Linked DNA regions of Homo sapiens. The protein of the gene in region 6 purifies or fractionates together with the protein of the main gene of each other region. This does not show direct contact. Each region holds a gene or a part of one and is shown on either strand. Other genes may lie near its edges.

Evidence for each region.
Region 1: the proteins of UST (region 6) and GOLIM4 purify together in Homo sapiens (affinity purification with mass spectrometry; 2 studies listed by BioGRID and IntAct, with this or other methods). This does not show direct contact.
Region 2: the proteins of UST (region 6) and PPT2 purify together in Homo sapiens (affinity purification with mass spectrometry; 2 studies listed by BioGRID and IntAct, with this or other methods). This does not show direct contact.
Region 3: the proteins of UST (region 6) and GLG1 purify together in Homo sapiens (affinity purification with mass spectrometry; 2 studies listed by BioGRID and IntAct, with this or other methods). This does not show direct contact.
Region 4: the proteins of UST (region 6) and MAN1A1 purify together in Homo sapiens (affinity purification with mass spectrometry; 2 studies listed by BioGRID and IntAct, with this or other methods). This does not show direct contact.
Region 5: the proteins of UST (region 6) and PON2 purify together in Homo sapiens (affinity purification with mass spectrometry; 2 studies listed by BioGRID and IntAct, with this or other methods). This does not show direct contact.
Region 7: the proteins of UST (region 6) and ERO1B purify together in Homo sapiens (affinity purification with mass spectrometry; one large-scale study listed by BioGRID and IntAct). This does not show direct contact.

What each region holds. Positions count from the first base shown.
Region 1 is NC_000003.12:168,085,487-168,089,736, forward strand, and holds part of GOLIM4 (Golgi integral membrane protein 4), read right to left. Parts: intron 1-4,250. UniProt on the Homo sapiens protein: Plays a role in endosome to Golgi protein trafficking; mediates protein transport along the late endosome-bypass pathway from the early endosome to the Golgi.
Region 2 is NC_000006.12:32,152,516-32,157,475, reverse strand, and holds the start of PPT2 (lysosomal thioesterase PPT2 isoform a precursor), read right to left. Parts: upstream 3,336-4,960; 5' UTR 3,072-3,335; intron 2,890-3,071; coding exon of another isoform or gene 2,882-2,889; coding exon 2,699-2,881; intron 2,447-2,698; coding exon 2,293-2,446; intron 1,789-2,292; coding exon 1,693-1,788; intron 1,606-1,692; coding exon 1,498-1,605; intron 1-1,497. UniProt on the Homo sapiens protein: Catalyzes the cleavage of thioester bonds from S-palmitoyl-CoA or S-palmitoyl-N-acetylcysteamine (unbranched structures) but does not have activity against palmitoylcysteine or palmitoylated proteins, branched structures or bulky head groups.
Region 3 is NC_000016.10:74,495,051-74,499,300, reverse strand, and holds part of GLG1 (Golgi apparatus protein 1 isoform 3 precursor), read left to right. Parts: intron 1-2,656; coding exon 2,657-2,860; intron 2,861-4,250. UniProt on the Homo sapiens protein: Binds fibroblast growth factor and E-selectin (cell-adhesion lectin on endothelial cells mediating the binding of neutrophils).
Region 4 is NC_000006.12:119,199,189-119,203,438, reverse strand, and holds part of MAN1A1 (mannosyl-oligosaccharide 1,2-alpha-mannosidase IA), read left to right. Parts: intron 1-2,091; coding exon 2,092-2,185; intron 2,186-4,250. UniProt on the Homo sapiens protein: Involved in the maturation of Asn-linked oligosaccharides. Progressively trim alpha-1,2-linked mannose residues from Man(9)GlcNAc(2) to produce Man(5)GlcNAc(2).
Region 5 is NC_000007.14:95,428,228-95,432,477, reverse strand, and holds part of PON2 (serum paraoxonase/arylesterase 2), read left to right. Parts: intron 1-4,250. UniProt on the Homo sapiens protein: Capable of hydrolyzing lactones and a number of aromatic carboxylic acid esters. Has antioxidant activity. Is not associated with high density lipoprotein.
Region 6 is NC_000006.12:149,019,363-149,023,612, forward strand, and holds part of UST (uronyl 2-sulfotransferase), read left to right. Parts: intron 1-1,961; coding exon 1,962-2,119; intron 2,120-4,250. UniProt on the Homo sapiens protein: Sulfotransferase that catalyzes the transfer of sulfate to the position 2 of uronyl residues in glycosaminoglycan chains. Has mainly activity toward iduronyl residues in dermatan sulfate, and weaker activity toward glucuronyl residues of chondroitin sulfate.
Region 7 is NC_000001.11:236,222,626-236,226,875, reverse strand, and holds part of ERO1B (ERO1-like protein beta precursor), read left to right. Parts: intron 1-136; coding exon 137-229; intron 230-360; coding exon 361-607; intron 608-1,736; coding exon 1,737-1,806; intron 1,807-4,250.

The DNA.
Region 1 (4,250 bases), on a different chromosome or scaffold from region 6:
TTTCACAGGAGACCCACAAACTTTTTGAGAAGATTGTATCAGCAGAACCACTGCCTATTTGGACCAAAAGGGGTAGAAGCAGTACTAAATTTAAAAAGGCCACGGGTCCTTAAAATTCTACCGGTAGGAAGCAGGCTGAGAAAACCACTCAGCTGCAAACATATGCCACCTTTCACGAAAAAGGAAAGATGACTCAGAGTGGAACCAAGAAACCAAATGGTACAGTCAAGAGCCCTGGAGAACTATTCCCAGGCTTTGAGACCTACTACAGGAGCACTTGCCTCAACAGACTTCAAATTCCTATTGACAGGTGACTCCTATTTTTCTCACATTTCTGCCTTTTTTTTAAACAGGAATATCTAGGTATTTTATGCCTGTCCTACCACCATATGTTGGCTGTGTTGAGGGCAGGTAATTTGACTCTGGTTTCACAGATCTACAGATAAAGAGGAAGCATACTTGAAGAATTATAGTTAAAGATTGTATGGATACCTAAGGGGCCTCACCCACACCTGGATCAAATTTGGATGGCATCTAGATTTTGAGGTGATGACCGCCTATACAGTAAAAAAAATTATTTTTCATATTTTAATAAAAGTGATGTTTGACATCAATACAATTTAACTTGTTTTATAGCATCCAAACCTCTAAATAAAATATAAAATAATTTAAAACATTTTCTGTCTGTTAAAAGATTGAGCTACTAATGCAGAAGGGCAAGCATCATAGATTTCTAATATTAATATTATTTATTAATAAATCTCACTAATATAAAACTTGATAAACTTCTCTAAACCAAATTAATCAATTATCAACTGCCAAATTTTAATCTGTTTATAATATTTATTTGACAGCATCATAGCTATTATCAAGAGAACACATAAGCAATGTCAAAGCTGTCCTAAATATCTTGATTTGCAGATTATTTTTTCTGTTTGTAACAAAGATTCCAATTAAAGGAGGCATTTTAAATGAGATGTGAACTGGAAAATGAAATGTCTGACTCTCCTAAAATGATTATAATTTTTTTAACTTCATGCACTCCCAAAGAAAAGCAAATAATATCATTTCAATGTTCTATAATGCCTATCCTTCAGAATGACAGCACATCTTAATTTTCTATTCACTATCATATTGTGACATTTTATGTATGAAAAATAGTTAAAGCAGTATTTTTTAAAATGTCATACGGCTATAGAGAGCAATTTATTTCATGCCCATGTCCCTCCGGGCTATGAGCCTATTTAGTAAAGCTTATCAGTGAAGGACAATGACTGACATGTCTTCTGCATATGCACTCATGGGCCAATAAAAACAAAGAACACAAATATACCATTCAGAAATACACAGCACTGTTTAAAAATAGCAATGCCCATTTCTTCTCACAGAGAAGAGGGTCCTAGTCTACAGAGACAGCACAGAGCAGTGAAGGGGTATTATCTTGTACTGAGAGTCAGAGTATGTGGGCTCTCAGCTTAGCTTAAGCTACCTGGTAAGTGACTTATCCACCTTAGAATTCAGTTAACTAACTGTAAAATTCAGTGTCTGTATCCAACTTGATCAGTCAATGCATTCCTAAACTTCAGACATGCAGGCACCCCTCAGGCGAGTTCTTACTACACTCATGCAAAACCTGTACAGTTTTTTTGAATCCACCAAATAATCACTTAAATAAGTTTATTTTTCCTTAAAATAAACTTTAAACAGGAAACTTTTACACCACTACTTTATAAATGAAAAATCTGATTTACATAGCATTAATGATTGGTAATAGATTTAATTTTAAAATTAAATACAATAATACAACAAAACAATTATCAAATTCTAGCTATCAAGTTGTTGGCTGCCTAACGTCTATTCTCTTTGGAAAAACAGAGAAGCAACTCTCTAGGAGAGAGATTCTAGCATCAGACTGAGAATTTCTCCATTACTTGTCAGGAAAGCATTGAAAGGAAATAAGTTTTTCATTATATGATTCACTGTCATTTCAGGCAACATCTACATGCCACATAAAATCAACTCTAGTATCAACCAAAATCATCTTTCATACCAGCAGCAAATTTCTTGTACCCTGGAAATGCTGCATCAAATAGTACACCCGTTATTTCTGATTCTAAATTTTATCATGAATCCCCATATGACCCACCTAACCTACTTTCTTAAAACCATTAATACTGTCATGAGAGACACTAAAATAATTTTGAGGGCAATGATGCACTATGGAAAAAGTTACATTAGGTTTCTAAGCTTAGTTTCATCAGGCTAGATCTTGACACTGGCAAGTTAATTAACCTCTCTAAGCCTCAGATTGCTCATTCAGATTAAAGTGCTAGTGTCACAGTTAAATGACATAATGCATGTAATAAGCTTAGCATTGAACCCGAACATGGTAGGTACTCAATAAATGTTATGGATTAAAAATAATTTAATTTTCTCAAATAAGTTTTCAAAATTCTACTAAAATTCACTCCAAAGAACACTGGCTAAAAAGAAAATATAGTTTATCATTTTTCTTTTATAATAAAGCTATATGATATATAACTTTCACTTCAAAATAAAGCTATAAAACCCATAAACCATCTACTGGCAAAAGTAGCAAAACCACTTTGTCCTTAATGATAAAAGAAGAACCATTGGCTGTCAAAATGAAAAACAACAACTCTTAGTTGCTATCATGTAAAGCATTTTCAGGTTTTTTCCACCCCAAGAACGGCTCAAAAGGGTAGAAAAGACAGAGTGAGAATATCTTAATCAAAAAGTTTCAGCCAAGTAGGGCACATAGTGAAAGGAGCCACTTTTAGGCCAGCACTAATAACACTCTTACCTACTAGATGTAGTAAAGGCTGGGCAAAATAAAAAGAAGCCCAATGTTAATTCAACAACAGTAGTTCTGGTCACCTAATAAATGGTAGTAGTAATATTCTCCAGGACTCATACTCGTCACTTCAGATGCACTATTTCTAATCCATACAAGTTTGCAAGTTAGACATTGCTAACCCAAATTAAAACACGAAGAGGCTGAAGTTCAGAGAGGTTATTTGCCTGCTCAAGGTCACCCTGCTGGTAAATGCCTGAGTTGCACTGAAACCACATCTGATGCCCCAACCAGCTCTCCAGTCACCATTTCCTGCTGCTTTTCTTTTAGGACATAAAGATGTGAACAAAACTCTTCCTCAGTACTTTGAAAAGTCACCAGGTGATATGTGTCCCCTTTTCTTTCCCTGCCCTCTTCTGGTTTCTCTCCAATCCTTTGCTTTTTGATTCACACCATATTTAGTCAGTATTCATTTCCCCAACTCCAATTCACTTATTCCTTCAGCCACAGTAATGTGGTATTGTACCCCAGCCCTTTTGGAAACTGTCCTTCCTAAGAAAAGAAAGAATAAAAAGAAATCAAGGCAAGGCTTCCAATCTACTTGGAACTTAAACTAAAGGCTCCCAGATAACAAGTAATTCTCTTACACAGCAACCAATTATTTACCTGGACACCAGTACTCTCATTAGAGTTGGCATGTTACATATTAGAGGGATGACTAAGGTGGGCACAACGTGTGAAATCGATTATAGATTATGTGCAAATCATACATATTCAAAAGAATGCTTCACTGAATTAGAGCTTCAAAAGGTATTTGGAAGCTTTTATCTTTTATTCAGGGAAGGAATTTACACACAAATAAAAATTACTGAACTTAAGAGTATTTTTGTTCCATATTCTAAATGGTACAGGATCAAGCAAAAATGATAGTCTCTTCATTTAACTCTAAGTTGTACTTCAGTGAAGATGTCCATTTAATAGACAATGTCTAGTTCATGTTTTAAGTTCTAACGCTGCACTTGAAAATTAGTACACCTACCACACATTGCCCACACTTGTGGTCTAAATTGCTGAGGTCTATGAACCACTCTGTTGTATATGTTTCCTCAATCATCCAAAATGCAAGCTACACCCTTCTAAGCACTGCACATCAGCTAACACTATTGATTCTCAAGATAACCTTTTGTAAGCACTATTATCCTGATTATTACATATGAATAGATTGAGTCACAGAAAGGTTAAATAACTTGCCCATGACCACACAGCTAGCAAAATAAGATAGCAGAAAATCAAATCCAAGTGCTCTGACGCCTCAGCCTGTATCTATTATACCTCACTGCGCACAATACCACCATATATATGCACATTAATAGGCCAAGAAAAAGTACTACATAGGTACTACCAGGCACCAGACGCTGGAGATGAAGGAATAAAA
Region 2 (4,960 bases), about 120 Mb from region 6:
TTTGGGAGGTAGAGGCAGGTGGATCACTTGAAGTCGGGAGTTTGAGACCAGCCTGGCTAACATGGCGAAACCCTGTCTCTACTAAAAATACAAAAGTTAGCCAGGCGTGGTGGTGCATGCCTGTAATCCCAGTTACTCGGGGCGCTGGAATCACTTGAACCCAGGAGGTGGAGGTTACAGTGAGCCGAGACTGCACCACTGCACTCCATCCTGGGAGACACAGTGAGACTCCATCTCAAAATAATAATAGTAGTGATAACAACCGTAAACATAGTAACAAGTACTTTTTTTTTTTTAGATGAAATCTCACTCCGTCACCCAGGCTGAAGTGCAGTGGCAGGATCTCCGCTCACTGCAACATCTGCCTCCCGGGTTCAAGCAATTCTCCTGACTCAGCATCCTGAGTAGCTGGGATTACAAGCGTGTGCCCACATTCAGCTAAATTTTTTTTGTATTTTTAGTAGAGATGGGGTTTCACCATGTTGGCCAGGCTGGTCTCGAACCCGACCTCAGGTGATGCGCCCACCTCCCCCTGCCAAGATATTGGGATTACAGGTGTGAGCCACCACACCTGGCAATAGCAAGTACTTCTATCTAGTATCTACTATATGAGCCAGGTACTATTCAAAGTACATTGCATTCATTTATTTATTTAATCCTTACAACCACCTGGTGAAGTACATGCTATAATATTTTACAGATAAGGAAAACTGAGTAACAGAATGGTTAAGTAACTTGCCCAAAGGCACCCAATAGGGTCAAGATTCAAACCCAAGTATTCTGGCCCCATGGTCTGGTCTAGAGGTTGGCAAACTGTGACCAAAGGACCAAATCCAGCCTGCTACTTGTTTTTGTAAATGAAGTTTTACTGGAACACAGGCACATTCATTCACATATGGTACATGGCTGCTTTCACACTACAACAGCAGAATTGAGGAGTTGTGAAACAGACTATATGTCCTACAAAGTCAAAAATATTTACTCTCTGGCCCTTTATAGACAAGGTTTGCTGACTCCCACATCAGACTAAACCTTCTAAGGCAATAAGGTGACACACTTAAAACATTCTGGGCCAGGTGCAATGGTTCACACCTGTAATCCCAGCACTTTGGGAGGCCGAGGCGAGTGGATCACCTGAGGTCAGGAGTTCGAGACCAGCCTGGCCAACATGGCGAAACTCCATCTCTACTTAAAATACAAAACTTAGCCGGGCATGATGGCGCCTGCCTGTAATCCCAGCTACTAGGGGGACTGAGGCAGGAGGATCACTTGAACCTGGGAGGCGGAGGTTGCAGTGAGCCAAGATGGTGCACTGCACTCCAGCCTGGGCAACAGAACAAGACTCCGTCTCAAAAAAAAAAAAAATTCTGAACAGAGCCTGTTCAAATAACTCAATAAATGTAAGTTATCTTTATTGTCATCACTGCTATTGGTTGTAGCAGAGGTGGAAGCAACTGACCTGATCCATGGAAGCCCCAGTTCAGCATCCCCACTCACCATGCCAGTAGTTGCAGATGGAGAATTCCTGGCCCCAGGGGCTATAGCAGATCCGATAGAGGTTAGACCGCATGGAGGTGGGGAACAGCCACTTCAAGTAGTCCGTGTCTGGCAAGCGAATGGCAATGCTAAGTGACCATAAACCTCTGTTCCCCCAAAACTCAGGGCATTCTATGGAGTCTAGTGCCCACTCACCTCCATACTGTCCCATCTGTGGAGAGGAGAGGGAGATGAAAGAATCCACGTTGTGATCATCCATGACAGAAAGCAGAGCCCGGCACACAAGGCCCCCTGTAAGCAGAACACCACATTGGGCAGGCACTTAAGGACAGCAAAGCCAGCAGCACCCCCCACCCCCACCACACACACACACACACACACACACACACACACAGAGACACACACAGACACACACTGTACACAAAGGAGACTGAGGCTTACAGAAGGCAGGCACACCCTGTGCCAAAAGGTCACACATCATATAAGTGACTGAGCCCGAATTAGATGCTGGGCCTCCTGCCTCTAGTTCTAGGATGTTTTTACCTGCCCCATTAGCCCTTATGTCCAAGAACCATGGGTAACAGGAAGCAAAAGGGCAGCAGTGTAGGGAGCCTCCCTCCCATTCAAGACAGAGATGAGACCCAGGTGCTGAGGGAAGTCAGAAAGGAAGGGCTCAGGTACCAGGGTTGTGCCTGGAGCAATGTGGTTCAGAAAAAGGGACGCTAGGAAGTGTCCCTCAGATAAGGATCAAGCCTCAGATAGGGCTTAGGAGTTAGGGGCAGGGGAGTCGCCTACCCTGCGAGTAGCAGATGAGATGCACCCCTTGAGGGGCCTTTGCCATGATGGGGACCACAGCCTCTCGGAACCCTTGCACCTGTTCCCACAGGGGTCGCAAGCTCTCTCTCCCATCGAAGAGATCGAGCACTGTCACCACAGTCCCGGGGTGTGTCTGTGGGAAGGGGGCAATGCAGCCACCGGGGATAGGCTAAGAAGCTCCCACACGCCACCCCCTGGCCCGCGTCCACAGGTCTATTGTACCCTGCTAGAACCAGGGATCCCGTCCCCCAACTCTCCCCCACGCCAGCACCAGCTCCCTGAGGAACTGGGCAGGCCCAGAGGGGTGGCTTTCAGTTCCCCGCTCTCCCTCCCCTGCCACAGTAGACGCCTCTAACGCCCTGCACCCAGGTGTCCCCTGCCAGACCTCATTGATGTATTCCAGCAGGTGGCGGAAGCTGTACGAGCTGTCGAAGAGCCCATGCACCACGATGACCGGCTTGTAGGACGCGCGGTGGGGCGCGGGGGCTGCAAGCAGCAGCAGCGGCAGGAAAGGCAACAGAAGCAGGACCCACGCCGCGGGGAGCCGCTGCCCGCAGAGCCCCAGCATGCTCCCGCCTGAGAAAGGGGTGATAAGGGCATGTGAGGGAGATGGCAACACCCTCCTCCCTCGGAACAGACGCCCGGCAATCAAGCCACCTCCTCTCGCTCCCACACCAGGTCCGTGTCACAAAATAGCCTACTTTTAACTTACTCCAGCCCTCTCCCTACAAACACACCCCCCCACCACGTTGACGCACCAACGCGCACCCGAAGTCCCGCCTCCAACTCAGCGTTCGGGGGACTTGTTCTCTAGGTCCAGGATCTTCCTAATGCATCGCCTCAGCCATGAACAACGCGGAGTTCTTTAATACCCGTGAGCAGCAGCCCAGGCCCCTTGAAGAGTGCAGACTCCCACCTGGCCTGGGTCCGTAGGCCTCGCTCCACCCGCTGTTTACTTATCCCAAGTCTGGAACCCACGGTGGCGGGGGGAAGGGTGAGGAAAGAGAGCGCAGGGGAATGACGGATGGGAGGGGGAAGGGCGGGCTGCTTGGGGTCGCGCAAATCCGTCACGTCCGGGGCTTTCTCTGGCAACCGCGCGAGCGTTCCCCGCAACACAGACCCAGGACAGGAGGGGCAATGGAATATTCCATTGCGCCCTAGGTGCTGGGGAGGAAACAGGCGGAGCGATCCATTTAGGCCAGTGGGGAGAGGAAAAAGCAGCAAACATATTCTGGGAATGGAAAGAAGGCCTCTCCAGGCTTCGTTGCCCCCAGCGACCCAAAAGTCCGATTTCCCCGCCTTGATTCTCCCCACTTCCCAATACAGGCGTCTGGCTCCGCAGCAGAACACGAAGTTTGCATTCCCCAAGGGGCGGCCAGGGGGCGGACCAGGGAAAGGTAGTCCTCTGCATTTTGCCGTGTGCTGGGTGAGTGGCAGGGTGGCCTGGAGGGCTGATGCCAGCCCGGGCGTGCCCCTCAACACCCACCCCACCCCACCCTCCAGTCCGCCCCAGGTCAGCGACTTACAACTCTTCATTCTGAAGTGCGTGTAGTGCCCTTGTCTCCAGAGACGCAGAGAGTCCTCGAGGCCCCTTGAGCTAAGTGCAGCCTGGCCCAGTTTCTCCTGCCCTACTCTACTCCCCTCCCTATAAGCGACCCACCCTCAAGGGGCGGAGGGCGCGTAGGGATGCGCTGACTCATGCCCGCGTAATTTCGACCAGTCTTTCAACCTGAACGACCCCCAGAATCTGGCTGTCTGAGTTATCTGTGGGTGGCTCCCTACCGAAACCCCCAGGCGCCCCACCTCTCCGCCTGTGACCCCTAACCGACACCCTAGTGCCTCAGGGCTTTTACTTGCTAGGGCTTTTACTTAGCATTTAAAGACGTTTCTCTAGAGATAAGGATTTCTCAGCATGTCTGAGCCCCTCTCTCTGTTTACAAGGTCATTGCTTGGTCTAAATTTGTCTCAATCAAAACATTTTTGCGCTCAGAATGGTGTAGAGTGACGATGAGGTGGCGGTAAGGGGTTGAGCGCTCACGCGAACGCCTAAGTGACCAGAACGACTGGTGTGAAGCCGTGATCTGACTCTGTGGAGCCTGGGACTGGTTTCAGCGAGAGCCTCTGTACTGCTCTGTAGTCTCTGCTAGGACATGGACGAAAAGGGACGCAGCCGGGAGAGCGACTGCCCCAGGTGGGGGCTGGGGGGACGTAAGGGAAGAATAATAATTATCTGGCTGTGTTTTTGTTTAAAAAAAAAAAAAAACTGGTGTAAATCTCCATAGACTTCCTATCCTCGCTCCCTTCACCCACCCACGCGCTCCCAAGATGCAATAAGCAAATAAAAAGACTAATAACGCTGTACTGCAGGTCGACTCAGGAGCTGGAGATGCGTCTTGGTGGGAGGTGGTGGGTGGGAGTAGGGGGGTTTAGGGAATGGATCTGAACATTGACCAGCCCAGAGACTCTAAGCAGCCTCAAAAGCAAAGGGAAAGTGGGGGAACAAGCACACATTACCAACAGAGCTGCCAGAAATGAGCAGTTAAGTCATACCCCCTACCCCCTCCAAAAGAGCTTCAGCTCCTTAGTCCTGGACGAAGAAGGTATGTATGCACACCGCCCAAACTCTCTCTCCCTTTTCCCTCCAAGG
Region 3 (4,250 bases), on a different chromosome or scaffold from region 6:
CCACTGCACTCCAGCCTGGGCAACAGAGCAAGACCCTGTCTCTTAAATAAATAAAAATGAAAGTTAAACAACAACAACAAACAAGTTTTAGGAGTTTTATAGACTCCACCCACTCACCCAGATTAACCCCATAAATAAATAATGGACTGTTAGCTAGACACTTCATGTTCTACAACTCAAATGAGTTAGTTAACTCCTCTGAGCCTCTGTTCATTCATGTCCGCAGTAGATATCAGAGCTGTGTCCTTTCTTCATATGTGTGTTAGGAGATAACACGAAAGCTTTCATGGAAACACTTGGAAATTAAGGTGCTATAGACAAATCCTTTAATTAAAATAGAAAAAAATACATTCTTTGGTTGATTTGAAATTTTGTCTGAAGTAGATGTTACGCTACTTGGTTTTAGGAATCTTTTTTTTTTTTTTTTTTTTTGCCTGAGACGGAGTTCACTCTTGTTGTCTATGCTGGAGTGCAGTGGCACTAACTCAGCTCACTGCAACCTCCGCCTCCCAGATTCAAGCAATTCTCTCGCCTCAGCTTCCTGAGTAGCTGGGGTTATAGGTACGTGTCACCACACCCACCTAATTTTTGAATTTTTAGTAGAGACAGGGTTTCACCATGTTGGCCAGGCTGGTCTCGAACTCCTGACCTCAGATGATCCACCCGCCTCGGCCTCCCAAAGTGCTGGGATTACAGGCATGAGCCACCACGCCTGGCCAGAATCTTTTTATTATATGCAGATTATTTCATAGATAGGTATTTTATTATAACAAGATTTTAATTGCGTGTGTATAAATGATAGCACTATATATAAAATATATATATAAAATATAATATATATATATATATATACTTTTTTTTTTTTTTGAGACAGAGCCTTGCACTGCACCTCCCAGTCTGGAGTGCAGTGGTGCAATCTCGGCTCCCTGCAACCTCTACCTCCTGGGTTCAAGCGATTCTCCTTCCTCAGCTTCCCGAATAGCTGGGATTACAGGTGCACACCACCACATCCAGCTGATATTTTGTATTTTTAGTAGAGACAGGGTTTCACTGTGTTGGCCAGACTGGTCTTGAACTCTTGACCTCGTGATCCGCCCACCTTGGCCTCCCAAAGTGCTAGGATTACAGGCATGAGCCATCGTGCCGGGCTAATAGCACTATATTTTAAGATGCTTTGGTTTGCTATATTAGTGGTTATACCTTAAATTGTTGAAACATATCTTGTAAGTATAGATTAGGACTCTTGAATAGAAAATATTTAGGGGAACTATCTCATATTTTGCATGAATGAATGTTTGTGGTTGCTATGGGGATGATGAAGTGTACAATTAAAGATAATTGGATGGTTTTTAAGAAAACTCTCAGAAGCGTTTTGTGTAAACAGTGGTAATCTTGTTAAATCCCATTAAGATAAATCCAGAACATCAACGTGAGTATTAAACAACAGATTCTACATATTGGGATGTTTGTGGACACCACAGAGTAGGGAAAGGAGCAAGAAAGTCTCTAACTTCTTAGTGGATTATGTGGTTTGTTGGTTTTTAACTTGACTGAAAGCACTGTTGGCCGGGCGCAGTGGCTCACGCCAGTAATCCCAGCACTTTGGGAGGCCGAGGCGGGCGGATCACGAGGTCAGGAGATCGAGACCATCCTGGCTAACACGGTGAAACCCCGTCTCTATTAAAAACACAAAAAATTAGCCGGGCGTGGTGGCGGGCGCCTGTGGTCCCAGCTACTCAGGAGACTGAGGCAGGAGAATAGAGTGAACCCGGGAGTGGGAGCGTGCAGTGAGCCGAGATAGCGCCACTGCAGTCCAGCCTGGGCGAAAGAGCGAGACTCCGTCTCAAAAAAAAAAAAAAAAAAAAAGCAAGCACTGTTATTTGGGAAATGCCTGGTTTTTAGAGACAAATGAACAGAGATTTCAGCAGTGTAATTTCAGTCTTGACATGAACTATGACCAGAACTTTGAGCCGATGTGGTTTTTTGTGTGTGTGTGTGTGTGTGTGTTTTTTTTACAGAGTTTCTGTCTTGTCGCCCAGGCTGGAGTGCAGTGGCACGATCTCGGCTCACTGCAACCTCCGCCTACTGGGTTCAAGTGATTCTCCTGCCTCAGCCTCCTGAGTAGCTGGGATTACAGGCGCACACCACCATGCCTGGCTAATTTTTTGTATTTTTAGTATTTTTAGTACAGATGGGCCTTCACCATGTTGGCCAGGCTGGTCTCGAACTCCTGACCTCAGGTGATCCACCTGCCTCGGCCTTCCAAAGTGCTGAAATTACAGACATGAGCCACCATGCCTGGCCCTGTTGTGTTTCTTATGAATTTTTGACATTTTAAATTTTTAAAAATTCAGGTTCTTATTTCTAGTGCTAACTAAACTATAATACTTAAACTTTCCAGGATCTCTGTTTCCATTTGTAGCATGCAAGTATTATATTCTAACTGAAGATTATTGAGAGCATTTTCTTTAACTTCCACAATGTGGTTGGTTCTTACTTGATTTCTTGGTAGAACGTTAATAAGTCAACTCTATGATGGGGTTTTATTACTTTGTGTGTGTGTGTGTGTGTGTGTGTGTGTGTGTGTAGCCAAATGTTGTTTATTTGAAACCCATGTGATAAAAGTTTTAAAATATTAATATCCTCGCTATTTTAGGATGCACATTCACAAGGTGAGGTGGTATCATGCTTGGAGAAAGGCCTGGTGAAAGAAGCAGAAGAAAGAGAACCCAAGATTCAAGTTTCTGAACTCTGCAAGAAAGCCATTCTCCGGGTGGCTGAGCTGTCATCGGATGACTTTCACTTAGACCGGCATTTATATTTTGCTTGCCGAGATGATCGGGAGCGTTTTTGTGAAAATGTGAGTCAGCTCAGAAACTGTTCTTTTCTTCCTTTTATTTTTACACATATATAATTTTGTTTTAATTAATTTAATTGTGTTGTTTTTTGAGAGATTGAGTCTTGCTATGTTGCCCAGGCTGGTCACGAACTTCTGACCTGAAGCAGTGCTCCAGCTCAGCCTCCCCAATTTTTGAGACAGGATCTTGCTGTGGTGCCCAGGCTGGAGTGCAGTGGTGTGATCATGGCTCACTGCAGCCTCCAACTTCTGGGTTCAAGCGATTCTTCTGCCTCAGCCTCCCAAGTAGCTAAAACCATAGGCAAGCACCATCTTGCCTGGCCAATTTTTTTAAAAATTTTTTGTAGAGATGGGGCATTGCTGTATTGCCCGGACTGGTCTTGAACCCCTGGCCTGAGGTGATCTCCTCCCTCTGTCTCTGAAAGTACTAGGATTATAGGCACGAGCCACTGTGACTTAAATATTTTTTAATACTCTATTCTAACGTAAAATAAGCCATCAAGAAACCTCACATGTAGAAAAGCCACAGAAATGGAAGAAGAAATTGGTCCCAGTATAGCAGAAAGTGGTAACTGGATGCTCAACCTTGATGACTGAACATTTGGTTAACAGCTGGCTTCTAATGATCTCCACTTAGTATTTTTTCTGCTTTATCTCACTTCTCAATTTCAGTTCTTGGAAGTCTGTTTTATCTATAGGAATTTTATTTTACCCAGGATCTTATTTACATCTATTCAATGGCTAAAACTTTGACGCATTATATATTTATGTGTTTTTGGCTAAGGTGAAGAAAACAGCAGGTGGCTAATCTTTAAAACCAAATCCTTGATTACCACCTGCTGACTCTACAGAACAGCCTTCTAAGTCTTTAAATAGAATGGTCTCTCCATCCTTACAACAAAGTACTGAAAGTAACTTGTGTACACTTCCACTCTGCCTGCTGGTTTGCATTAACAGCTTTAACCATCAGAGCCACTGATGTAAGAGTTTCGTTAACTCTAGCATACACTTGTAAGAAAGAAGACTCAGAGGCTGGGTGCGGCGGCTCACGCCTGTAATCCCAGCACTTTGGGAGGCCGAGGCAGGCAGATCACTTGAGGTCAGGAGTTCGAGACCAGCCTGACCAATATGGTGAAACCCCATCTCTACTAAAAATAAAAAAATTAGTTGGGCAGGGTGGCGGGGGCCTGTAATCCCAGCTACTTGGGGCTCTGAGGCAGGAGAATTGCTTGAACCCAGGAGGCAGAGGTTGCACCGAGCTAAGATTGTGCCACTGCACTCCAGCCTGGGCAACAGAGCAAGACTGACTCTATCTCAAAAAAAAAAAAAAAAAAAAAGACTCAGACTCTAACACTTCTCTTGGTTCCCTAATTAACAAAATACATCTGAGAAC
Region 4 (4,250 bases), about 30 Mb from region 6:
TGACATTCTCCCCTTTGTCTCCTCACCTCTGGCCTCAGTAGCATTGCAAACCTGCTGTCTCCTCAGGGCCTTTGTACTTGCTCCTCTCTCTGTTCCGAGTGCTCTTCCTCCACATTTCCACGTGGCCTACTCCCTCACTTCTTTAATATTCTGCTCAAACACCTCCGCCTTGCCAGGCCACTCTGACTAACATGGGATAGCCTCTCCACATCACCCTGTCCCGTTAACTCTCAATCAGCTCGGGTTACCATAACAAAAATGCAGCCAGAAACAACCGAAATTTATTTCTTACAGTTCTGGAGGCTGGGAAATCCAAGATCAAACTGCCCATGAGGTAGGTTTTATTCTGAGCCTCTTCCCTGGGCTTGTAGATGACGAGAACTGTCCCAGTGTGTGTTCACATGATGTCTTCTTTGTGCTCTGAGGGAGAGAAGGAGTCACAGAGAGAGAGAGAGAGCTCTTGTGTCTCTCATGAGGGCACTAATCCCATTTAAGGCTCTACCGTCATAACCTAATTACCATCTCCAAATAAATCTCCAAATACAATCACACTGGGAAGTAGGGTTTCAGCATATGAAATTAGGGGTATGCAGTTCAATCCATAGCACCCTTTTATTTTTTTCCACAGTATTTATCATCTCCTGACATACTATACAGTTAGGTGTTACTTAACAGTGTTTATTCAACAGTGGACCACATATGTGACAGTGGTCCTGTAAGTTTATAATGGAGTTGACAAAATTCCTACGGCCTTGTGACATCATAGTTGTCATAATGTCGTAGTGCAATGCGTTACTTACATGTTTGTGGTGGTGATGGCATAAACATACTCTACTCCCAGTCACATAAAAGTATAGCACATATAATTATGTACAGTACATAATATTTGATAATTAAATGACTGCATTACTGATTTATGTACTACTATGGTTTTTATTGTTATTTTAGAATGTACCACTTTTTTTTTAAGTTAGCTCTAGAAGCAAGGTCCTTCAAGAGGTATTCCTCTTCAAGGCATTATCATCACAGGAGTTGACAGCTCCATGCGTGCTACTGCCCCTGAAAGACCTTCCAGTGCGATAAGATGTAGAAGTGGAAGACAGTGATATTGATGGTCCTGTGGAGTCCTAAGCTAATGTGTATATGTGTCTTAGTTTTTAACAAAAAGTTTAAAAAGTTAAACAACTTTAAAAAGAAATTTTAAATAGAAAAAACTTATAAGAATATAAAGAAAGAAAATATTTTGGTACAACTATACAAAGTGTGTTTTAAGCTAATGGTTATTACAAAAGAGTCAAAATTTTTTTAATTAAAAAGTTTATAAAGTAAAATTACAGTAAACTAACGTTAATTTATTATTGAAAGAAAAATACTTTTATAAATGTATTAATAATGGCTAAGTGTACCATGTTTATAAAGTTTACAGTACTATACAGTAACGTCCCAGGCCTTCACATTCACTTATTACTCACTTACTAACTCATCCACTGCAACTTCCAGTCCTGCGAGTTTCATTCATGATAAATGCCCTATACAAAGTGCCCTGTATTTATGTATAGGGTTATAAAATGTATAACCCTATAGAAAGGTATCATTTTTCATCTTTTATAGTGTATTTTTCTGTGTTTAGATACACAAATACTTCAGTACAGTAACATATGCTACACAGGTTTGTAACCTAGAAACAGTAGGCTGTGCCAACTACATTTGTGACAGTGTGCTCTATGATGTTTGTACAAGAATTAAATTGCCTGTGTTTCCCAGCATGTATCCCTGTCATTAAGGGACACATGACTAGACTTATTGATTTATTGTCTGTCCCGTCCCACTAGGATGCACAATTCTAAGAGTGTGGTGACTTTGTTTATCCACTGGCCCCTTGTTCCTAGTATGGCATCTGGCTAATGGTAGATAACTAATCAGTGTGACTATATTCACTTACTGCCATTATGTTTGTAATAATAAGCTAACAGCAGTTATCTTTGTTCTAACTCTGCATCATTTAAGTCAACTTGTATGTTCAAGAAGAAGAAGAATGGCATGAAAATTGTTTTTTAGATTTTCACGGTAACATTTTATTTTCTATTATAGGTAATGAATATTCGAACAGTACTGAACAAACTGGAAAAACCACAAGGCCTTTATCCTAACTATCTGAATCCCAGTAGTGGACAGTGGGGTCAACGTAAGTCAGAAGATTTGCATTATTATAGCTCTTTTTGGTACTGTACTCGTGGAGAGAGAGGAAGCACAAAAGCAGCACAGATTTTGTTGAGAAATGTTTAGAAAAGGAGAAAAGGGCATGGCTCCTTTAATAAACAGGCTTCTGTCATCAGATTGTGTTATTAGGACACTGGATTGTGTATTTTTCATATATAACTCCAAGTGTGATGACATATAAGCACATTTACAGCTATTAATCAGAAAGGGAAGATCTGGCCAGAGTAGTGTGGGGATGTTAATCTGTAACAAGCTGGTCATGTGGATAGAAAGGAAATTCATTCCTTTGTACTAATGACTATGAGGGTTTTATAGAGAGTAGGTAGACCATTCTGCTTCCTAACATTCTGTTTCTGCATGGCTATATAATGAGAGAGGAGCCTGAATTTTTAAGAGTTGGGAAATTGGAAGAGCAAACAGCCTGTTTTTCTCTTCTTAATTTTAAGCTGCCAGATATAAAGGTTTCTTGCCAGTAGAATTACCTTTAGGATGGGAGAAAGTATTGCACAAGAACTTTTGATCCTAGAAGCCTGCACTTAAGACTCTTCAGACGATTTTGAGCAGGGGCATAAAGATTCAGAGTAGTTGAAAGAAATGTTCTCAAGCTGATTTGGAAAAACAGTAGTAGATTAAATAGCTGAAAACAAGTGAAGAATATTGAGATACCCAACTGTAGCAAGAGTACACTGCCTTAAGATTTTACTCTAATTTGGGTTTTTTCTTTATATTTTAATATCATGTTCTTAGATACCTCATTATTACTTTAGAAGTACTTTTCTTAAAGAATAGTTTAATAGGAAAGTATATGCCAAAATCCATATGCTAAAATATGTCTGTAGCTCTGGAAGGCCTAGCTGTTGAAACCTTAGGACTATAATCAAGGTTACCACTTACCTAAGTGTGGTCAACAGATCACTGGAAGTCCTTGAGACCTCTGAGGAGGCCCACAAGGTCAAAAATATTTTTATTATAATACTAGTATAATGATATATAATAACAAGACATATAATACATGTCTTAGTCATATTTACTAAGCCAGTACACAGTATCTTGCACTTAGTGGATGTTTACTTACTTAAATTTTGTGAATACATATGTGCTCTGTATCTCATCTCTCTTTCTGCCTCTGCTTTTAATAGTGGTACTTTGAAAGACTTTCTGCCTTTTCTAATGTGTTGATATTTACACCTACAGTGTTAGGTGATACTGCTGAAGCCTCACTGAGAACAAAGGCGAACAAACACCAAATAGTACTAATATTCATATTTTTTCTTTTTTTTTTCTTTTTTGTGGGACAGGGTCCCACTGTGTCACCCAGGCTGGAGTACAGTGTCATAATCTCAGCTCATTGCAACCTCTGCCTCCTGGGCTCAAGCTGGGCTCAAGCTATCTTCCCACCTCGGCCCCCCGCCCCGAGTAGCTGGGACTACAGGTGCACGATGCCATGCTCAGCCAATTTTTAATTTTTTTTTTTTTTGGTAGAGAGAAGGTCTCATATTTCCCAGGCTGGCCTCAAACTTTTAGGCTTGAGCGATCCCTTTGCCTTGGCCTCCCAAAGTGTTGGGATTACAGGCATGAGCCACCACACCAGCCCCCATTGTATTCTTAATAGCATTTTAAAAAAGGATACTGGTTTCACTTATGAATGTGCTTACTGAAACAGTAAAAAAAAAAAATTAGTGATTCTAATAAATACCAACCTGTGAGTACACACCTTTGTCATGTTCTGTGAGGTGAAATGGAAAATACTCATAAATCACTCCTGCTGAATTATGAAAAATGATAGTTGCATCAAGGAAAAGCTCTTGGGTGTTTTGAGTTGCAAGCTGAGCTAGCCACTTACTGTTTCACAGATTCAACATTTTTACTTGAAAGAACAATTTAAAAAATGATTATTTAGGCTAGGTAGTCAGGAGCCATGTTCTTGAAAATGAGCTTGTCACTTCAAGAAAAAGTCACAGTATTTGTGCCAATGATTATAATCCAAGTTTCTAAATAAAAAATAGAATTTTGGAAAACTTGTACATGCT
Region 5 (4,250 bases), on a different chromosome or scaffold from region 6:
CAGAATGCCTGATAGTTTATTTACAGGTTTTTGTTTGTTTGTTTTTTGTTTTTCTTTGTTTTTTATTTTGACACAAGGTCTTGCTCTGCCGCCCAAGCCAGAGTACAGTGGTACATCAAAGCTCACTGCAATCTCAAACACCTAGGCACAAGCAGTCCTCCCTCCTCAGCCTCCTGAGTAGCTGGGACTACAGATGCATGCTACCATGCCCAGCTAGTATTTTTATTTCTTGCAGAGACAGGGTCTCACTTTGTTGCCCAGGCTAATCTCAAACTCCCAGCCTCAAGTGATGCTCCTGCCTCAGCCTCCCAAAGTGGTAGGATTATACACATGAGCCACCACCCTCGGCCTACTTTACAATTTGATGCACCTTTTCTTTACGTGACTGTGATGCACTTTAATGGGCAGTGACTTTATAAAATGGTAACTTTATTGGATATGTGGAGCCCCAAATGGGCTGACGTGAGAATGTTGGGGTAGGTGGTGGGTGGCTGGATTTAGCAAAGAAAAATGTAGGCTACCCAGTTAACTTTGAATTTCACATGGATTTTTTTTTTTTTTTTTAGTATAAGCATGAAATACTTATACCATACTTTTAGCATTAAGCGTGGAATTTGGGACATAATTATACTAAAATATCATTCATTGTTTATCTCAAATTAAAATATCACTGGGTACCCTGTATTTTATCATATGTTCGAGTGCCTTCTGTCAGAATTTGGTGACCCTTTGAGTCTGTTTTAAAAAGGAGCATGTTTGGCCGGACACAGTGGCTCACGTCTGTAATCCCAGCACTTTGGGAGGCTGAGGCGGGCAGATCACTAGAGGTCAGGGGTTCAAGACCAGCCTGGCCAACATGGTGAAACCCCGTCTCTAATAAAAATACAAAAATTAGCCAGGTGTGGTGGTGCATCCCTGTAATCCCAGCTACTTGGGAGGCTGAGTCAGGAGAATTGCTTGAACCCCAGAGGTAGAGGTTGCAGTGAGCCAAGATTGAGCCACTGGACTCCAGCCTGGACAACAGAGAAAGACTCCCTCAAAAAAAAAAGAAAAAAAGCATGTTCCCACCTCCCCATAAGGAAAGGCTCTTCAGAGGAAGTTGAAGGAACAGAGGCTTTATGTTTGATTTTTGCTTTAATCTGATGCCTACTGTTTGATTATTCAATATTTAGAGATGGTACTTTGGCAATCAAGTTATTTCTCTCCCCAGGTTGCCCACTTCAATTTTTAGTATAAGGATGTCCCAGAGGGATAAATGCCATCAAAGTTGTCTTTCTTCTTCTGAACTGTAACTGGGATTCCACACCCTCCTTTTCCACCCCTCCCTAGTTGAGCAATAAAGGGGAAAATAACAGTATACAAATATTCCCAGGCCAGTTCCTGGTGTCAAGGTACACAGCCATGGATGAATCATGAGGCTTGAGTGCATCAGAGACCTAAGCGTGGGCAGGAACCCCCAGAGTACCCATGTGAATGTTCTGCTTGCTGCCTCGCACCTTTTATGACAATTCCCACAAGAAGCTATGTGGTCTGTTTCTACTTCTGAAAGAGCAGCCTTTTTCCCTTTTTTTTTTTTTTAAACCACCATCCTTTAAATCATTTATTATGTAACTCTTGTGTGCTGGTCAGTCAGTGTGTCAAAAGTGTAAAAACTTCTTTATTTATTTTTTTAATCTATCTTTTAAAAAATATTTTCTTTCTTTTTTTCTTTTTTCTTCAAGGCAGGTTCTTGCTCTGTCACCCAGGCTGGAGTGCAGCAGCACAATCATAGCTCATTGTAACCCAGAACACCTGGGCTCAAGCAATCCTCCCACCTCAGCCTCCTAAGCAGTGAGGACTATAGGCATGCACCACTACACCTGGCTAATTAAAAAAACATGGCCGGGCACGGTGGCTCATTACTATAATCCCAGCACTTTGGGAGGCTGAGGCGGGTGGATACCTGAGGTCGGGAGTTCAAGACCAGCCTGACCAACATGGTGAAACCCCATCTCTACTAAAAATACAAAATTAGCCAGGCACGGTGGCACATGCCTGTAATCCCAGCTACTCAGGAGGCTGAGGCAGGAGAATCACTTGAACCCGGGAGGCGGAGGTTGCAGTGAGCCATTGCACTCCAGCCTGGCAACAGAGCGAGACTCTGTCTCAAAAAAAAAAAAACAAAAAAATTTTTTTGTAGAGATGGGGGTCTTGCTGTGTTGCCCAGGCTGATCTCAAACTTCTAGCCATAAGTGATCCTACCGCATCAACTTCCCAAAGCACTGGGATTATGGGTATGAGCTACTGAGCCCTGCCAAATTTCTTTATATTAAACCAAAACGTACATTTACTGATATTTGGAAAGAAAGCTCTTTTACTTTTATGCCTTCATCCAGTCTTCATAGATATCTTCCCTTTTACATTATAACTGTAAATACTGAGGTTAGAGAGGTTAACTAGTTAGTTCAACAGAATAATATAAATATTGAATAATATAATTAATGAATAATTAGTGCTGAACCTGTCGCCTCAGCCAGGTCTCCTGATTCCAAATACAGTTTGCCCCAGCTCCCCACAGTCTTCTAGCTTCTCTGCCAGTGGAGCAAATTTTCCCTAGGTTTACAGGCCTAAGCACAGATTCTTAGTTACTTAGTGCAAGTATTGCCAGAGCCCAAGGGGTGAATTCCAAAGGGTTTTTACAAGGCTATACATAAAAGATAAAGCCCTGGCTTGTATATCACTTGCACATAGGAGATAAAGCCCCAGCAGTTGTATGTAAATTTCAAAAGCAGAGAAGTATGGCACAAAGAAACTCCTGATAGTAACACTGTGTTCCCACTTTGCTTAGGGGCATATTGGCACCGTAGCATGGTACACCCTTACTGCTACCTGCCATGAGGCCAGATAATAGCTAGCAGCCCCTGGTCTCATTCTACTCTGGATGGGTACTGCTGTTTCCTGAATGAAAGACACTGAGATTGATTTCATGCTAATGACTGTTGGTTAAGAGTTCATGCTTTCTATTCACAATAGCAAAGACTTGGAACCAACCCAAATGTCCGTCAATGATAGACTGGATTAAGAAAACGTGGCACATATACACCATGGAATACTATGCAGCCATAAAAAAGGATGAGTTCATGTCCTTTGTAGGGACATGGATGAAGCTGGAAACCGTCATTCTTAGCAAACTATTGGAAGGACAGAAAACCAAACACCACATGTTCTCACTTATAGGTGGGAATTGAACAATGAGAACACTTGGATACAGGAAGGGGAACATCACACACCGGGGCCTCTTGTGGGGTAGGGGGAGGGGGGAGGGATAGCATTAGGAGATATACCTAATGTAAATGACGAGTTAATGGGTGCAGCAGACCAACATGGCACATGTATACATATGTAACAAACCTGCACGTTGTGCACATGTACCCTAGAACTTAAAGTATAAAAAAAAAAAAAAGTTCATGCTTTGTGGACAGGTAGCCTGAGTTCATTCATAGCTCTACTATTTACCTGAAACCTTGGACTAATTATTTCACTTTTCTGTGCCCCAGTGTTGTAATCTGTAGGATGGGGTACTGCCTGCTCCACAGTGGGACTATGAGAATGCTTAAAATAATGCCAAGCGCACAGTCAGCTCAATAAATGTCATCTATGTAGACAATGAAATTCAAGCATAATTCCTTAAACCTTTGTGCCATACATCCCTTTGGCAGTCTGGTAAAGCCTTCATTCCTTCTCAGCATCATGTTTTTAAATGAGTAAAATAAAATATATAGGATTACACAGGAAACCAATTAAATACTGCTACCAAGCTATTTAAAAATCTATGATATAATATGCTTTTTAAATTAAACCCTTAAATGGATCTAGAGGTAGGTAAATGTCTAACAGCAGATATTTTGAAGTTGCAATGAATGTAAATGGCACTTTGAGCTATCTACAACTGAAATGCGATAGAAAAGTATCTATAATTTCTATTAGTGACAGTCACAAATACTACTAATAGTATTGTGGTTTGTTGCTTATACTCATCATCAAAGGAAATACTCAATTTGAGTTAAAGGTTTAAATAAAGATGTATTTTTCCCCCATCCAAGTTCATGGATCCCTGAATTCTACCCATGGATTCCTTGGTCACTGGACTCCATAGGGGTCACTTGGGGAATGATTGTGACACCAATGAAGGAAGCCAGCGGATACTGTTTGCTGTATTATACCTACCATAGGCTCGTGATGAGGAAATAATAAAATAAATAACTGTAATG
Region 6 (4,250 bases):
TTACTATTAATCTTTCAAGATAATATTTGAGACTCCAAATGTCCTATAAATAATGAAATTTAAAAATCAGGGTCTGTAGAGGCCTCAGGAGACCACCATATAAAGCTTTGTAACTGGAACCAAACCCTTGTTTATACCTAAAACATACTTGTCACTACTCATCCCATGTTGTTTGTCTTTCTCTTTGGATAAAATGACAAAATGTCACATAAAATGTGATCGTGAAGACCAGGAGCGAACACCCAGCCTGCTCCTGTACAGTGACTGACTTAACCAACAACCTGCCCTCGTAGCATGTGTCACTGGGTCTGAGACACTGGAAGCCCACACCTCAATCCCATAGTGGATATACTTAGTAGGCAGAGAAGAAAGTGTTTTATAATGATCACCTGTCAACCTTACTTGAAGGCACAACCTTCTTTAGAGAGTGACTTACTCAGATAGTCAGGACCCCCAGGGTGTGATCTGCCCAGGTCCTGCATCAGCACCCCTGTATACTTGTTAAGAACCCCCACCCAATCATAGTCTCGTGTGTAGCAGCCTCCCCAGATGCTTCTGGCGTAGCTATAGTTGAAATCTACTGTGCTAGACAAATGTCATAGCCTGGAGAAGAAATGGCAGCAACAATGAAGCATTATATTTGCTTGGTAGGAAATCAACCCCTGCTATCAGAAGTGACATTATTCCCCAAAGGAAACATTAACTAGAGGGTCCTTGTGTTTCTGAAAAGGCCAAAGGAGAACTGCTACTTCTACACCGGCAACGCATTCATTGTACCTTTTTGCTTATGCTATGATTTCTGCTTCGTTTTTAGGCGTATTGTTGTTATTCCTGTCTTGTTTCATTTGCCATAACAAAAGAGTTTGCTTATAGTCCAAATTATAGAACTAGGAGTGTTGGTTTTTGACTTCACCATAAGCCCCCTGAGTCCAGGTGGCCTCTCCCCTGCCCCCGACCCTTGCCTCAATAACAAATACCTCCTGGTTAACATTTAGTGCTTCAGGTATTGGGAAGATTTGGGGCTGGATGACTCACTTGCTGATCACAGTGAATATCTTTATAACAGGAAACATGATTTGAACTCCCTAAAGTATTTTTTAAATCGTGTAGTATTTTTCAGATTTTTGAATTTTCTAATCTTGGAGAGGTGACTCATGACACCACACCTTGATACACACACAATGATTTTTATAACTCTTTCATCATATCACCTTGCACAGTCTTTACAACAATGCTTTGAACTAGGTAAGGGTGATTTTTACCATTTTTCAAAAGAGAACCCTGGCTTGCCCAATTCCCCCAAATGATAAATGACAGCCAGGCCTGGAGCCCCACTCCCGGGCTTTTCTCACTCGCCTTAGTGTCAGTTCAGAGAGCTGGCCTACAAATCAGCTCTCTGATTTTTACAAATTAGGCTGTTTTCCTTCTGCAATCTAGACAAACAAAATAAAACAAAACAAAAATCCAAAGATTCCTCTTTAACTCTTCCAAAGAATAAGATGATTAATAGGCATGACCTGACAGCTCTTTTGAGTTCTACATAAATACTATGTCGGTAAGTTTCATATTTCAAAACTCCTAAATTCATTTAATTGGTTCAGTTTGGTCCTCCTATTAAAAAACCATTCTACTCACCCCTTGATTAGTATTTGTTAGAACCTAACTGCTTGTGCCTGCATTCATTCGTCCACAATACTTAGGCAGGGCCTCTGAATTCAAGGCCCTGGGCTTGGCATGAAGCATGGATGAAAGTGACAGAGAAGGAATGGTGAGCAGGGCAGGACACCAGTTGGAAGGACTGGGAAGGCCCTGGATGGGGCTACATCTGGGCTGGTCCTTGAGGGAAACAGGATTTGGACTTATGCAAGTGAAGGTGGGAGGTAGAGGGGGTAAACTCTCAGCATCTTGCTGCATTTCAAATATGAATGTCTGATTTTAAATAAATTTTTATATCCATAAAGGGAGCCTGGTGAATGGGCCCTTGAGAGAGCAAAGCTGAACGTGAATGAAAACTTCCTGCTCGTGGGGATTCTTGAAGAGTTGGAAGATGTGCTGCTGTTACTGGAAAGATTTTTACCTCATTACTTCAAGGGCGTGCTCAGTATCTACAAAGACCCAGGTAACTTCATTTGTAAGCAAGCTCTTCTCCATGAGAGGTCTGTGTCCAGGGCTACTCACCTTGAAAAGGCCTCAGGAAATAAAGGAGTGAAATGATCTCTTCTGATGACAAAGGGCAGTTAGTTCCCTGGGCTTGCAAAGGAAAGTTAGAACCAGGAGCTGCAGATGCCAAAATCTTGAGCTTCATGTTCAGACATAAAAGCACCATGTTCCAAAGGCTTAATGGCTCCATTTCTCCCTATGGAAACTGAAATTGGCAACATTCTCCATCAGCCTTGTCTTGAGCATGTTGCTGGAAACTGAAACTGGCAACATTTTCCATCAGCCTTGTCTTGAGCATGTTGTTGGGGTGGGTACAAATGAATCCGTGTGTGTGCACCTGGACTCCATTGATGGAAACATGCGTGAGTATGAAAGAGCCATCCTTGTGATGAATTCTCTCTGGCCCAACTTCCATTTGATAAAAGCACTCTAGTGTATCAAATCCTGACAGTGGAATAGATAGAGCAGCAAATTGAAAATACAATTATGATTTTATCCTAACAAACCGAGTGGTCCCCAAATAGCAGCAAGAAATAGAATGTGGCAAAGCAATTACAAGGGCTGCCTGTGGTATCATCGTAAGTATAATTACTTTCAGAAATCCATCATTTATTTTTTCATTGTCATTTTATCCAAAGAGAAAGACAAACAACGTTGTTTGTTTTTTCCTATTCTCCTTAATCTACTGCTGTGACAACAAGCCTTGAATACACATTCAGTGATCTGTTTATTGTTCTGTTTTGTTGTCCTGAGATGGAAGAAGGCATTCTGCCCTGTAGAAATAAGCAGCAGATAGGCCCGGTGCGGTGGCTCATGCCTATAATCCCAGCATTTTGGGAGGCCGAGGCAGGTGGATCACCTGACGTCAGGAGTTCGAGACCAGCCTGGCCAACACGGAGAAACCCTGTCTCTACTAAAAATACAACAATTAGCCAGGTGTGTTGGTGGGAGCCTGTAATTCCAGCTACTCGGGAGGCTGAGGCAGGAGAATCGCTTGAACCTGGGAGGTGGAGGTTGCAGTGAGCCAAGATCGCGCCACTGCACTCCAGCCTAGGCGACAAGAGCGAAACTTCATCTCAAAAAAAAGAAAGAAAGAAAGAAGGAAGCAGCAGATGAAAGCTCCCCAAATGCAGTCTGCTGCCTCACATTCCACAGGGTTCCCGAACCCCACCTGCATCACTGGTAGGTCCCAAGGCCCAGGGAAACTGGTCTTTGCCCAGAGAGCCCTGGATCCCGTTGCACAAGGTCAAGGTGGCCCTACCACCATCAGGGACTTGCTGAAGGAAGGTGGATAGTTGGTGGAGGCTGCCTTAGCCTCCCAGCTCTCATTAGAGTTCAAATCCCATTTACCTGAGTGGGGTTGTGAAACTAGGATTTCCTTTGTCTTTTCAACAACAAGCCATTTAAAGAGTTTATAGAATTTTAATGTAAAGAGTTTGATGTGACTGATTTTTATTTCTAGAAGACAACATAAACTCCGTTCTTTGTGCAAGGAGAGGTCTTATCCTAAATTAGACTCCTTTGAAGAAGAAAGGTTTATGTTAATCATTTTCTCCTTTTGGCTTTATCTTGTTCTATGGTGTGTGTGTGTGTGTGTGTGTGTGTGTGTGTGTGTGTGTGTGTGTGTGGTGTGGTGTGGTGTGTGGTGTGTGTGTGTCTAATACACAGTCTGAGATAAAGGGCAAACTAAATCCTGGTGACACATAAGATGAACACTCTCCATAAAAGATATTATGGCTTCCAACTTTGTTACTGTCTGCTCAGTCATTTGCTCTGAGAGAGATCAGCTGCTATGGATGAAGAGAGGTTCACATAGTGAGGAACTGAGACCTCAGACCAAGAGCCACGTGTGTGAGCCATCTTGGGAGCAGCTACTATGACCCCAGTCAAGCCTTCAGATAACTGCAGCCCCAACCAACATGTTAATGGCTGTCTCATGAGAGATCCCAAGCCAGGACCACCCAACTAAGCTACCCCTGAATTTCTGACCCTCAGAGCCAGTGTACGAAATAAATGTATGTGTTTTTATTTTATTAATATTGTTTATTTTAATGAGCACTCTCTTGTCCCAGCATTTGGGAGGAGGAGCC
Region 7 (4,250 bases), on a different chromosome or scaffold from region 6:
TAATCAGTTTTATATTATTCCTTGATTTATTTTAATGTTCTTCAATCAAAAATAAGCCTACATACTGAACCTCCTTGAGTCAATATTTCTGATATCTAAATAGGTGTAATTTCTTTTTCAATATTTTTCTGAATAGGTTTGTGTCTGGAGAAAAGAGTCTTCTATAAGCTTATATCGGGACTTCATGCTAGCATCAATTTACATCTATGCGCAAATTATCTTTTGGAAGGTAATCATATTTTTAAGTCGAGATTTTGCCTTCTATTAGTGTAAAAATTATTGGAGAGAATACATATTCTTTAGAGCAGAAAAAAAATCCTGTTTACTAAAACAATGTAATGTATTTCTCTTTCTCTTTAGAAACCTGGGGTAAGCCCAGTTGGGGACCTAATATTAAAGAATTCAAACACCGCTTTGACCCTGTGGAAACCAAGGGAGAAGGTCCAAGAAGGCTCAAGAATCTTTACTTTTTATACTTGATTGAGCTTCGAGCTTTGTCAAAGGTGGCTCCATATTTTGAGCGCTCAATTGTCGATCTTTACACTGGAAATGCAGAAGAAGATGCTGACACAAAAACTCTTCTACTGAATATCTTTCAAGATACAAAGTAAGAATTGACTATCCGTGATTTGAAATTCTCCTCTCTGTATTCAAATGAGGTAGCACTTAAAGTACACAAAAACTGACTCCTAAAAGTTAACCGAGGGGAGATGTAGAACAGAAAAGGAAAGTGATCAATAGAACAACAGAATTTAAAAATATTTCTGAAAATGTTGATGAAAAAGCATTAATAAGGCTTTCTTTTGCAGAAATTTTCACACTTGAGAATAGTGCTTTAAAATATCACTAAATTTTATGTAGTATCAAAATTTAGTGCTACTTTAATGGTCTTTCTACCAATTTTGTATTCTTCTAGTCACTTTATTTACTTACTTATTTTTGAGACAGAGGCTTGCTCTGTTGCCCAGGCTGGAGTGCAATGGCACAATCTTGGCTCACTGCAGCCTCTGCCTCCCAGGTTCAAGCAATTCTTGTGCCTCAGCCTTCTAAGTAACTGAGATTACAGGTGTGTGCCATCACACCCAGCTAATTTTTGTATTTTTAGTAGAGATAGGGTTTCACCATGTTGGACAGGCTGGTCTCAAGCTCCTGGCCTCAAGTGATGCACCCTCCTCTGCCTCCCAAAGTGCTGGGATTAGAGGCATGGGCCATCGCGCCTGGCCTCTAGTCACTATATTTAAATTTAGATGATAATATACATGTGTTTGCATTGGGATGGATATGTAAGGAAACATTAGCCTTATCTTCTAGAATATAACCTTTTAAACAAAACGCTTGGTCAAGAAAACTTGAGTTAACTGGTTTTTAAAATAGCCTGGAAGAGAAAGATTAAAAAGTGTTTAAAGTAAATTATGTATTAAATTTTTAAAGAATATTAAGGGAATATTGCCTATTTTTTACATAGATTGTTTTCAGTTAATTTTTTAGATTACCTGTGTCATTTATTTAAAACATTACAGTCTTACTAAATTTAACAGCCATCTGTGTCTTGCTTTAGTCTTTTATGAAATAGTTTATGTGTGAACTGTTTGTCACTTTTCTACATTACCAAAACTTACATCGGAGTAAATAATGAATTTTAAATATTCATAAGGATAGAAAATTTTATCAGGTTTCTGATACAGAGTACGTGGATTTTTCATGTGTAACTTAATCCAATACTATCATTTTATCAGGTCCTTTCCCATGCACTTTGATGAGAAATCCATGTTTGCAGGTGACAAAAAAGGGGCCAAGTCACTAAAGGTAAAAAGTTCTCGATTGGGACACGGGGTTGGGAGCAGTTTGCTGGTTATGCTTTAATGCTGTGCATCCAAACTGTTTTCTTTCCCAGTTTTCCAGCTTCTTGTCAGAGTTGGTCTGATTGGATTTTAATACAAATGGTACAAAAAGCCTTTCCATATTTCTCAGTTCCATTGACCAACTGCTTAGTGAATCATTGGTCATTAGTATGTCCTATAACACCTTTATAAATGTCTTTTTAAAAGATACTAGTTGAGGGAAAGTTTTCTTAGTTTAAAAGCAGTGTATATTGTCGTTTTGATGCAGCTTTCAGAATACCATGAGCTTTTAGCCACTTTGAGGACAATAAATATTTTTCTAAAGTTTATTTTATGGAATGTTACGGTTTTTGAAACATATATTATGTTTTTGTCCCTTTGGACTAACTTAAAAGGTTAAAACTACCTGTTAACATGTGACATCAGAAGGAGAATATGTTTTGGGAACATTACCAAACTTCATGTTAGGTGTTCTTTATTTTCATTTGCTTAAAGTACATTAAGAAACAAATTGTACCCTTAAAATGTTCATAAAAGTATTTGAAATTGGCATTTTTTTTTTTTTTACTTTTAAATTTATTTTTTGAGATGGGGTCTCGCTATGTTGCCCAGGCTGGTCTCAAACTCCTGGCCCTGAGCTGTCTTCCCACCTCAGCCTCCCAAGTACCTAGGATTACAGGCACAAGCCACCATACCTGGCCACAAATAATCTTTGAGTACAACTTCATAGTCTTTTATATGTACTTCTGAAATCCGGGTAGTTTCAAAAACTGAAACATTTTCTTATGTTTAGTGCAAGGTAATTTTTTAGCAAAACCTGACCTAAACTGGTGTAAGAATATAGCAGATATTCGTAGTTTTGTGGGGTTGTTTTCAAATTCTGCTTGGTATGAATTTTTTATATTTTGCTACAGAAACATTAACGGATTTGACTGCAGGGTGTTTCCTCACACTCTGGTGAGATGTTTCATAATATACAGTACATGTACTGTATTTCTAAAATTTAAAAACTTCTGAATTCTAAAACACATTTGACCCCAAGATGTTTTAGATGTGGATGTACTATAGGAACCAATAAATCAATACTGAGTGATTCTCCTTTGGCGAGACTTTCTTGGTATTTCTGAAATAAGTAATTTAGTCACAACTATATTTTAGTGTTGGAAGGTTGTTTTATTTTACAGTTGTTTTAGAGGTATATTGCCATTTTGGTATTTTGTATGTTAATTCATTTTTATAATGCTTCCTGTTTTCTAAGTATCAACACATATGTTCTACTTTTAATCTTCAGAATGATCTTGTGTAATAGGGCAACTATAATTATGTATGTTTTTGTAGATGAGGAAAGTGAGACTAAGCAAAGCCTAAGTGTCTCACAGCAAGCTTTTAACTACACAATGCTGGGATTTTGTTTGCTGTTTGTCAAGAATGTATGAAGGAGAACCTATGTCCCTTTTCCATCTGCTGCAAAGAACTTACATTACATGAGAATATGACCAGCACAGGAGTTTTTGTGTTCTATTTATATTGTCTTTCTTTGCCAAGGTATTGATTCCTTTCAACCCTCTGGCAGCTGGTCAGGGCTTGTGGTAGCCAGAGTTTTCAGGCTACTTGCCTCCCGCTTCATGCAATAAAATATTTCCCTCAATGCAATAAAATGATTTTTATTTTCTGCAGTTGCCATGTGAAACAAATGAGGAAATTTTCTCTTAACCAATCTTATCCGCAGATAAAGTGAGACCAACCTTAAAGGCATATTGCACACAAATGCTTATAGGCAGAAGAATTTCCCCAGTGTAGGAAACTTCTCTTTTTTTTTTTTTTTTTTTTTTGAGACAGAGTTTCACTCTAGTTGCCCAGGCTGGAGTGCAGTGGTGCGATCTTGGCTCACTGCAACCTCCACCTCCCGGGTTCAAGCTATTCTTCTTCCTCAGCCTCCCAAGTAGCTGGGATTACAGGCATGCACCACCACACCTGGCAGATTTTGTATTTTTAGTAGACATGAGGTTTCACTATGTTGTTTAGGCTGGTCTCAAACTTATGACCTCAAGTGATCACACCTTGGTCTCCCAAAGTGCTGGGATTACAGGCGTGAGCCACCCTGCCTGACCAGTGTGGGAAACTATTACAGCAAAATAGAGGGATCCAGTAAGCATCTCCATAACAACTGCATTAGCAAATGTAGAGGACTGTGGGACCATATGTGTCACACAGGCCTGTTATCATTCATATTGATTGAGCAACCATGACAAACATAGTGTGGTACTAAGGAGTGATACAAAAATTGATCATTGTTCTAGGACTAGCTTTCTGATATAGGCTTACACAAAGCAAAGGATCAAAAATAAGTGAAACATAAACTAGACATATTTATTGTTGGTTGTATGTAGATAACAAATGGAAGCAGCA